2 separate regions of the Homo sapiens genome follow, and region 1 is linked to region 2. A link means that fine-mapping ties the variant in region 2 to the expression of a gene that starts in the linked region. Tissue or cell type: whole blood. Region 2 holds a variant in brackets; the other region holds the start of a gene. All regions are shown on one strand. Distances are from middle to middle.

Region 1 (5,147 bases), 25 kb after region 2:
TCACCAGGTCTCCCAAGTGCACTCATCCAGGTCAGTGCTCAGATGTGTTTAAGGAGACCCTATATTCAGGGAAGTTGCGTGAACACTGCAGTGGGGAGAATTGAGAATAGTCAGGCCTATCAGTCTCACAGAATCACCCCTCTACCTTTGATATTCCACTTAGCTGTAGAGTCCATCTGTTTGTCCATCTGCTGAAATGAGAAAAGAAAAATTTATGCACTGATTTAAAACAAACCAAAAAAAAAGAAAAAAACAAAAAAAAAAATCCCTCCTTTCTAGCTGAACAAAAATGTGCAGTTAATACTTGGCGCTTGAAAATGCAGTAGTGAATGTGGAACCAAGCCTGTCTGTATATCTGGTAGCTCTTTTCTTGCTTTGTTTTTTCTTACCAGTATTCTGCCTAACGTTTGCTTCTGTGATGGTTATATTGCCTAGCAAGCACACCCGTGGTTGTGAAAATAGTATAGCAAAAAAGAAAAATCCCCGGTTATTGATGTACTAGATTTGTGTATGTCTTTTAAACAGTTCTAGTTTCACCTTACACAGAATAATCAGGAAAAGTGTAAAAATTCAAAAGTGAAATAAAAATTTTATCAGTTAGTTGCCTGTGAATTGATGTGTCACCACCATCTCTGTTGTTACCAGACCTAGCTAACTATTCTGATCACACTTATTTTTAACTCTGTTTTCTTTAAAAATAGGCAAACAGTTTTATTTCATTATTTAGGACCAGAAGTCAAGGTGTTATCCAGGGGAAGAAATTACCATTAATTAAACAGCCTCTTTACACCCGTTACTTGATACCTCTCTACCTTCCACAACAAACCATGCAGGTATTAGGTCCTCTTTAGTGACTTCTAAGATTTGGTATGGACAGTTATTTTGCATTGTATTCGAGCCCACCATCCCTTCCCCATTTTTTAACTCTGAGATACAACCAAGCCAGTGAAATAGGTAACCTATGGTTGCATAAGTCTTGGTCATCACCAAGCTGGCGTCTCACCTGTCCTCACACTGTATGGTGGCCTGCAGAGCTGGTTCCTCACAGGATTTGCCCCTTCTGAAAACATCCACATTACCACAAGGAGAGAAAAATATCAGGATAGAGGGGTCTTTTTTAGCCCAAGATTAGAATTAGTGCTTCCTTGCTACTCTGAGGCTGGACAGCCAGATGGGCACCTTCTGTCCCTAGTTTAGGAGCTGTTCCACCTGTTGAAGCCACACTCAACCAAAAGTCAGTGGGGGCCTACCTGCTCTGTTGGATCAGTGAGACCAGGAAAGTCCTATCAGAGGAAAAGTGAAGTATTGGTGCTCAGTGGAGTAGTTGTTTTGTTTTTGTGTTGTTTTTAATGTCCCTATACCACAGATTGACGCTGCAAGCTCAGATTCACAGTCTTGCTCTGTTTAGGTCTTGCTCTGCTATTAGTTCCCAATTGTCCGCATTTAGGCTGAGCCACAAGTAACTCAGTGAACCTCCCTGGTGTAATGGATGTGTAATGGCTTAGCAGAGGGACAGGGAATATCCCAGGAAAAGGGGTCTTGGTAATATGAGCCAGTACCAAGAAAGGCCTTAGTGGTCTCCAGTTCTCATGTCTCAAAGCCATTTCCATCCTTGGTGCGAAACGGTGGGACTGGATCAGGCTCTCTGGAGGAAGACATCTTCAATGGAGCAGGGTAAAATTCTCTACACAAGCTTTGAAACAGTGGCCTGTTCGGAATTCCGTTTGTGTGTGAAACGCAAAAAGCGCGGTTTGGGTCTCCTTTCATTCTTGTCAGGAGGGAATCATTCCCATTTTACAGAGAAGGGAAACGGGTTCAGAAAGATGATCATCTGTTCCGGGGTTAGAACTCAGTCCCCTGCGTCCTTTCCGTCCCAGTCCTCGGCTCTTTCAAAAGAGCTGGGGGTTTTGAGAGCTCCACTCAAGTCCCAGCAGCCCTGCTCAAGGCCAGGTTGAAGGCTTTTTCCGCCTCCCAGGGCGGGGTCAGAGGTGTCCCCACCTGTAGCTTTTAGATCCCCAAGTGCTCGCAGGTGGGGGGTGGGCCCAGGAGGGATCCCGGGGGAGGGGCGTCCGAGCGCGCCCACGATTGGTGCGCAGGGACGCGGGGGCGGTAAAGGGAAGGGGCGGGCCCGCGCCCAGGAAGGAGGGCTTCCGCCCGGGTGAGCGCGGGGCTGCTGGGTGACCCGGCTCCTGCTTGCCCCGCAGCCCCGGCCCCCTGCCCACCATGAACGCCAGCGGTTCTGGCTACCCGCTTGCCTCGCTTTACGTGGGCGATCTGCACCCCGACGTGACCGAGGCCATGCTCTATGAGAAGTTCTCTCCCGCCGGCCCCATCCTGTCCATCCGCGTGTGCCGCGATGTAGCCACCCGGCGCTCGCTGGGCTACGCCTACATCAACTTCCAGCAGCCCGCGGACGGTGAGCCCCGGGGATGGGGCGGGAGGGGAAGGACCGACGGACAAGCAGGCGGACAGACAGAAGCCGGAACTGGGCCGCTTGCGCTTTCATCTTACACTTTGCAGCCGGGGAAACTGAGGCTCAAAGATAACAGGGCGTTGGCAGAGGCCTGGCCCCTGAGACGGGAATTGGTAATTAGTGTGGTTTACTGCTATTCCTCTACAGAGGAGAGAGATTAGGGTCGAGTGAAAACAGATACAGGCTTTGTGGGGGTGGGGGTGGGGGTCAGGCGGACCAGGGATAGAAGCCCAGCAGCCGTGTGACTCTGGGCAAGTTACTCGACCATTCTGAGCTTCAGATGCGTGTCTGGAAAATGGGGGTCCTAGCTGCCTTATAGAGTGCTTGTGAGGATGAGAGATTCAAAGCACCTGGTGAGGAAGATGCCCAAGGCAACACAGCTGGTGAGCAGGGGAGGCAGGAGAACCCAGCCTTGGGCTCAGGCCTTTCCCAGCGCGACGTGAGATCCACACTGGGCGCCTCTACCTGCACGGGCTCTGAAAAACCGCTGCCTCCAGGCCGCAAGGCCGCTTTCTCAGAGCTGATAGCATTGATTAGAGCTTGTCCGATGAGTTTGCCTGCACTTCTGTTGAGAGTGGAGAGGATGAGTGAGCTTGGGCAAGCCTTCACGCTCTGCACCTTTTCATCTGCAAAATGGGGCTAAGGCGTATTCTCCAATAACATAAAGAATGGAGAACTGCTGTCTATGCATAAAGAATGGTAACTGCTTGTTACCTCGTAAACGCTCTTAAGTGGTAACCTAAAATAAATAAATAAATAAATAAATAAATAAATAAATAAATAAATAAGGCCAGGCGCAGTGGCTCACGCCTGTAATCCCAGCATCTTAGGAGGCCGAGGTGGGCAGATCACTTGAGGTCAGGAGTTCGAGACCAGCCTGGCCAACATAGCGAAACCCTTTCTCTACTAAAAATACAAAAAATAGCTGGGCATGATGGCGGACGCCTGTAATCCCAACTGCTGGGGAGGCTGAGGCACGAGAATCGCTTGAATCCGGGAGGCAGAGGTTGCAGTGAGCCGAGACTGCGCCATTGCACTCCAGCCCGGGCAACAGAGCGAGACTCCATCTCAACACAAAACAAAACAACAAACAAAAAAGAAACAACAACGAAAATAGTGGCTTTAACATTCTGATGTAAGACTCCAGAAACTCACCCAAAAAATGGCCGGCGTCCACTAGAGGGATCCCTTGCGCCAGGTCGCCTGGGTGAACCTGGTGGTTGCCTGAGTGGGTGGTTTGCTAGGGAAGGGGTTGTTCCGCCGGGCCTGTTCCCCGCCCCTTACTGGGCTGGATTCCTGGGCACTTTTCTGTTTGTTCTGCTTTGCTCCACCTCCTGCCTCTTCCCATCTTCCTCCAAGCCCTGTGAATGAAGTGGGACTCGGCCTGGAAACCGTGCTGCAGAGAGAAGGGTTTTGCCCCAGGTATTTATGATAAGACTAGGTGGAGAATCCGGGCTTCCTGAAACTTGCTCCACTGTGTTCCCCACAGCCCCCTTCCATGTCTCTGCACTAGCAGACTCCCTGAAACAGGTCACGTGTATCACCCAGGAGAGACACAGGCTGCAGCAGTGGCCGGAGGCTGGGCATCGGCTGCTGTTTTGAGACATTATTTTGTGTCAGGCACAAAGTTACAAACAAGGCACTTTTACATACCTTCTTTATTTTTCAGTCCCTCCAACAACCTGGTAGTTGGTAGTATCTCCCTTTGTTAGGTGTGGAAAAGTAGGTAATATTACCATCATTCCCCCTTTACAGGTGAGGAACAGGCTCAGAGAGGTAATGTCCACTTTCCCCAGAGCCGGACTGCTTGAGATCTAACCTCAGCTCTGCCCTGCAGCACCTCTGAGTTTTAATTTCCTCAAAGTGCTGCCACCCCTTGTCATATGGACATTGTTATCCACTCAGTGTACTTTAGAATCCAGAATAGACCTGACGCTGCCACAGACCTTTCATGTTTCTTATTCTCAGTTTTCCCATCTGTAAAATGAGGGGCAGGAATCCATGCTCATGTGGCTGCAGGGAGTTGGTTGAATGAGATCATAACTGGAAGGTTGGGGGAGCACCATACACACTAATTCTCAGCTTATCCTTCCTGAGCCTTTGGGCTCTTATCTCAGTTATTTGGGCTCTTATCTTGGCTTATTGTCTGGGACCCAGACAATGACTTTCTCTTTATTGGCTCCCAGTTAAGCACCTCGAGGGGTGGGTGATCAAGGTAAGAAAATTCCCTAAACTTGCTAATTTCTCTCCTCTTCCTTCTGTCCAGCGGAGCGGGCACTGGACACAATGAACTTTGAGATGCTCAAAGGCCAGCCTATTCGCATCATGTGGTCCCAGCGAGACCCAGGACTTCGCAAGTCAGGTGTGGGCAACATCTTCATCAAGAACCTGGAGGACTCCATTGACAACAAGGCTTTATATGATACCTTCTCCACCTTTGGGAACATCCTCTCTTGCAAGGTAGAGGATGAAGGGTGTACGTCTTTGGGTAGATCGGTGTCAACTACCTGCCTGGTAGAGGGGTGACAAGCAACACCTCACTTTACAGTTTACAAGGTCCTTTCAGTCAAGTTTCAGGTACAGCAAGCACCTGAATGACAGCCGTTCTTTCAGTTTCATCTTCCGTGAATGACCAGACATTACCTGTGTATCAGTCAGCTCTCGCTGTGTAACC
Region 2 (5,147 bases):
AATGAACCCCAATGTAAACTACGGACTTTAGTTAATAATGATGTATTAATACTGGCTCATCAATTGCAACAAATGTACCACTCTAATACAAGATGTTAATAATAGGGGAAATTGTGTGGAGGAGGGAGAGGGAATGTGGGAACTCTGTAATATCTGGTCAATTTTTCTGTAAACCTAAAACTGTTCTAAAAAATTAAGTCTATTGGCCAGGCACAGTGGCTCACACCTGTAATCCCAGCACTTTGGGAGGCCATGGCAGGAGAATCACTTGAGGCCAGGAGTTTGAGCCCAGCCTGGGCAACATAATGAGACTCTGTCTCTACAAAAACATTTTTAAAAATTAAGTCTATAATTTGAAAAAAGATTCACTGCAGTATATAAGGCTCTAGTATCACTTCTTTAAGGAAATCTTTCCTGCTCTCCCATCATATTCCCAAGATGGGTTAGGTGCTCTTCTCCCAAGCTCCCATAATACCCTGCACATATATTTATTTCTATGGTTGCACCTACCACATTGTATTTTAACATTTATCTGTATCGCTGTCAGTTCATAGCTGTGGTTTGCTGACGCTTGGCCTAGAATGCAGAGATGGTGAAATAAGCTAATCCATTGAACCCTTTAACAGGCACCTAGGAATGCCTGACAAAGGGCACTTCTGTTCCCTCAATGCACTGTTGATGTCATTTGTGGTATAATCATTATTAGCCCTCTGGTCCATTAGGCTATTTTCTGGATGACGGCATAAGGCACAGTCTTGTGACATTAAAAGTTACTTAGCCTGAGTAGTCTCTAGATTACTGGTCTAGGGTCTGCCAAAGACGATCCTCATGGGGAAGTTTTTGCACTAACCTCTCCAGGATTCAAATCCAATGGTTTTGACCCAAAACCATGCTGTTTACGTTACACAACACGTTCTCAATCTTGTTCAACTTAAAAGGTGGCACAGTACAGGGGTCACTGGCACACATGCCTACATGACAGATAACATAAGTGACAAAAGCAGACTCAGGTCGAGAAGGGTCCCTGGCATTTGGGAAAGTCCATGCCCAGTCTAGAACAGGCAGCCACTCCTTGGCTTCAGCCAATTGTTGCCACACAGAAATGTGGACACAGTGTTACCAGACAAGGCAGAGAGGCAGATTTCTGTTCACACAGAAACTTTTCAGTTTAAAAAAGTGTTGGCAACTAAGTCAAACTGCTTAGAAATACTGGAGATGGCATATTGGGAGGGTAAGGAATCATCCAATTGAATTGGGGTATTTACGATGGGGGAGAAATAGCAGCTAAAGGATAAGGGCAGCTTTTGGAGAACCCTGATTGTCACACTCAAGGAACTTATATATTGTCATCTAGGTCTGAGTGCACACTAAATAATTTAAGCAAGAACAGGACACGATTAGAATGGTATTTTTAAAAGATCACTTGGCAGTTGACGGGCGAGGCTGAGACCAAATGGTGAATTAGAAGTCTGTCATTTAGCTAAGTAAGGGTAAAGGCAAGACGGCAAAGGCCTATTTACTTGGCTTTTTCTCCTACCCGACTGCAAACTCCAAGACAGCAGGGCCCCACCTGCCTTGTTCATTGCTGTGTCTCCAGCACTAAGCAAAAAGCCTGTTCAACATTTGTTGAAAGAATAAATGAACAGGAGAGAGGGAAGGCGAGAGGCATTTTGAAGGACTGAGTTTAAAAATCAACTACCTTGAAGCCGGTCGAGGTGGTTCATGTCTGTAATCCCAGCACTTTGGGAGGCTGAGGCGGGTGGATCACCTGAGGTCAGGAGTTTGAGACCAGCCCGGCCAATATGGCGAAGCCCCGTGTCTACTAAAAATACAAAAACTAGCCGAGAGTGGTGGCATGCACCTGTTATCCCAGCTACTCAGGAGGCTGAGGCAGGAGAATTGCTTGAACCTGGGAGGCAGAGATTGCAGTGAGCCAAGATTGTGACACTGCCTGGGCGACAGAAAGAGACTCTGTCTCAAAAACAGAAAACAAAACAAAACAAAACAAAACAAAATCAACTACCTTCAGAGGAGTAGAATGTTGGTAATTGTGAGAGCAGTCATGGAGGGGAGGGGAGCCATGGAGGCCTGTTTCCTTCCCTGAACTTCCTCAACGAGGGGGCATCTTAAAGAAGAAATCATGTACACAGATTTTTGTGGGTTTTTTTTGGAGACAGGGTCTCACTCTGTCTCCCAGGTTGGAGTGCAGTGGCATGACCATAGCTCACTGCAGCCTACAACTCCCGGCCTCAAGCAATCCTCTCACCTCAGCTTCCCAAAGTGCTGAGATTACAGGCGCGAACCACTGCGCTCGACCCTACACAGGTTTTTTAAAAAGACGTTTGTGCATTGGATTCCTGGCACTTCACGTGGCCTCTTCAGTCTACCAAAGAAGGAAAAGGTAAGTACCCTGAAGGATTGAAAGGATTAAATGAACATTGAGGGATGAGCAATTTCTGTTCTTCCCTGGCTCCAGCATTACCAAAGCACACAGTAAGAGGACTGACATCGGCCTCCGACCCAGTGAGGATTACTTTCGGGGTGGAGGGGGAACTGCTAAACCTCGAATCTCCGGGACTGGCCCTGGCGCGTTTCCAGTCCCAGCAGAAAGGGCAATCCCCATCCAGACCACACTCCT[A/G]GTCCTCCTTATTCCCACACAGCCCGTATCTTGACCACCCCCAGCTCCGCCCTCTCTCCTCCCACCTCCTTTTCCCGCTCCCCCGCCCCATTTCCTTCTTCTCCGCCCACCTCCTCCTGGGTCCCTCCCCCGGCCATCCGCCCTGCCCCGGCCCCTGCAACCCTGCCTTTCGCTCTTCTTCCTCCTCCCTTCCGTCTGCGCCCCTCCCGTGGGGCCGTGGCAACCCCGTGCCTCGCTTGCCCAATGAGAACACGGTTTGGGGCGGGGCGCGGCCAGGACCGGAGCGGAAGTGGCGATCGGAGCGGAAGTGGAGCTACCGCCACCGCCGCCGCCGATTCCGGAGCCGGGGTAGTCGCCGCCGCCGCCGCCGCTGCAGCCACTGCAGGCACCGCTGCCGCCGCCTGAGTAGTGGGCTTAGGAAGGAAGAGGTCATCTCGCTCGGAGCTTCGCTCGGAAGGGTCTTTGTTCCCTGCAGCCCTCCCACGGTGAGTGCGGCGCGGGGTCCGACCGGGGCCCCCGGGGGCCCAAACTCGAAGCCCCTCTCTGGCTGCTGCGACGACGGCGGCCCAGTGGGTGGGCCCCGTGGGGTAGCGGCGCGCTGCCTCTTTCGCTCCGCGCGGCCGCCGGCGGCGAGGCCAGACCTCGCAGCGGCCCCTCCCTGTTTCCGGGGCCGGGCCCTTTACCTCTTGGAGAGGCTCGGGCCGCCTGAGGTCCTGCCGGCCGGGCGGGGTGCAACTCCGTACTGTGCCGTAAGGGACAGCGGAGCCGGGGATCCCGGACCCTCCCTCACTATCTGCTTCGGGCCCCACGCGACCCCTCCCTGCGTCTTGGTCGGCAAGAACGTCCCCTTCAGCCCTGTCACCTCTGCTCCGTGCTTTCTGGTTTCCAGAAATTAAAATTTAATCAAACGCGGATGAGTTTTCTAGCCCCAGTCCCCGTGTTTGGCTCCTCCTGGATGAGTAAGGGGTTTAACCTTGGGAGACAGCAGTGGGGGAACCCCCTCCCATTTTGCAGTAAAACCATTTCATCATCCTTCACTGGTTATGGAGCCTGGCAGGACCCAAGATTCCCTAGGAAGGGAATTGGGTTTGAATCAAGAAAATCTGTTTGTTGGAGCCGGTTACTGAGTCAGGCCGGATCCCCAGGAAAAAATATCAGGGGGTGAGAATCGGAGTATTTTCTCACAGTATTTACCGTCATTTAATGCCAGATTCTTTTGTGTCTTTACCCCAAATTCCCCCATATTGTGTGTTAGCACGTTTTTCGGTCTGAAATTTGCCCGGTGGCTTCCTGGTCGGGGGGTGGGGAGCGGAGGGAAGAAGAGGTGGGAAGGTGAGTGCATCTTTGCCGCAAATGGAGAACTCCCATATAATGGGGTTTTCAGAGGTGGCAGCCTTGGTAAGCAATTTGCCAACCTTTCTGTAAAATACATGTTTCTTGTCGTTGCCTTCATTGCATTTCTCTTTGGTAAGGCTAGATAGCATCAGGTCCTGATTTTGCTTGCCCTGTGTGGGAGATGGAATTTGGCAAGATGATGCTATGAACATAAAATCAGCCTCGGGAACCAAAAGAGAAAGGTGAAGCACTTATAAGAATATGAAAATTGTCTGCATTTCTCATTCTGTCAGTTCATGTGAAGCCAGACACAGATGCAGTTTGTAGACCTGGACACTGCAGCTTTTGCATTTTCATTTGGAAATGTGTATAAGTATTTGTTCTTGGTGAATTTCTTCTTGACTGCTTCCAGTGTACCCTATTTCTTACTTAGGGATATCTCATTTGTTTGAGCCCTCATTTTTCTTGGATCCCTGTCCTTGGCAACACACGGTGTGTGAGTGTAAAACCTGTCAATCTTATTGGACCTAAGTTAGAAATTTAAGTGTGGCTTTCAAAATGGAAGGCTAATAATCCTGTAGCAACTGCAGAATTATTTTCCTGGCCTGTCCTTCCAATGAGATAAGAAACCATTCACCTATCTTGCAGATGAAGTCTTTATGAGAAATGAGGTGATTTGGCCTAGACTATACACCTAGTTTTTTTCAAACTGAATATCCTCATTCATCAGTAGCAAATATTTATGGATTGCCAGCCCCTGGAGTATGACGCCTACCCTGTAATCTTTTGTACATTTCACATCTTGCAGTGCTTGTTATATTGAAGCCATTTTAGAATTGGAGCGCTATAGATCAGGGAGGCAGCCTCTATAAAACCAGGCTGAGCAAATTCCCATGATGCTGGTTCTCTAGGCAGAGTCTCCAGAGATTTGGGCCGCTACAAAAAGTGCATTTTGCCCATTCGGCTGTGGATAGAGAAGCAGGAAGAGCACTGGACTTGGAGTCAGGTAAATTTGGTTGAAATCTTGCCTGCAATATTTTCTAGCTTTCTGAATCTTCAGCATGTTAATCTCTGGTTCTTGGTTTTCTTATTTCCAGGGTTATCATTAAGCCTTTTTTATAAACTGTAAATTGTTAAATATAAGCTTTTGGTTTGTTTTTTAATCAGAGTTCAC

Evidence for each region. PIP is the estimated chance that this variant, and not a neighbour inherited with it, causes the effect.
Region 1: it holds the start of PABPC1L, and the variant in region 2 is fine-mapped to the expression of PABPC1L in whole blood (TOPMed, PIP above 0.99).

What each region holds. Positions count from the first base shown.
Region 1 is chr20:44,907,921-44,913,067 of GRCh38, forward strand. PABPC1L (poly(A) binding protein cytoplasmic 1 like) reads left to right here and starts at 2,140. Exons shown (of 15, transcript NM_001372179.1): 1 at 2,140-2,416; 2 at 4,740-4,933. The coding sequence starts at 2,224. YWHAB (tyrosine 3-monooxygenase/tryptophan 5-monooxygenase activation protein beta) reads left to right here. Exons shown (of 6, transcript NM_139323.4): 6 at 1-612. RefSeq lists a silencer at 1,994-2,323.
Region 2 is chr20:44,882,764-44,887,910 of GRCh38, forward strand. YWHAB (tyrosine 3-monooxygenase/tryptophan 5-monooxygenase activation protein beta) reads left to right here and starts at 2,942. Exons shown (of 6, transcript NM_139323.4): 1 at 2,942-3,123. RefSeq lists silencers at 2,566-2,625, 2,686-3,235 and an enhancer at 2,672-3,288. The variant A/G (reference allele first, on the strand shown) is at 2,639.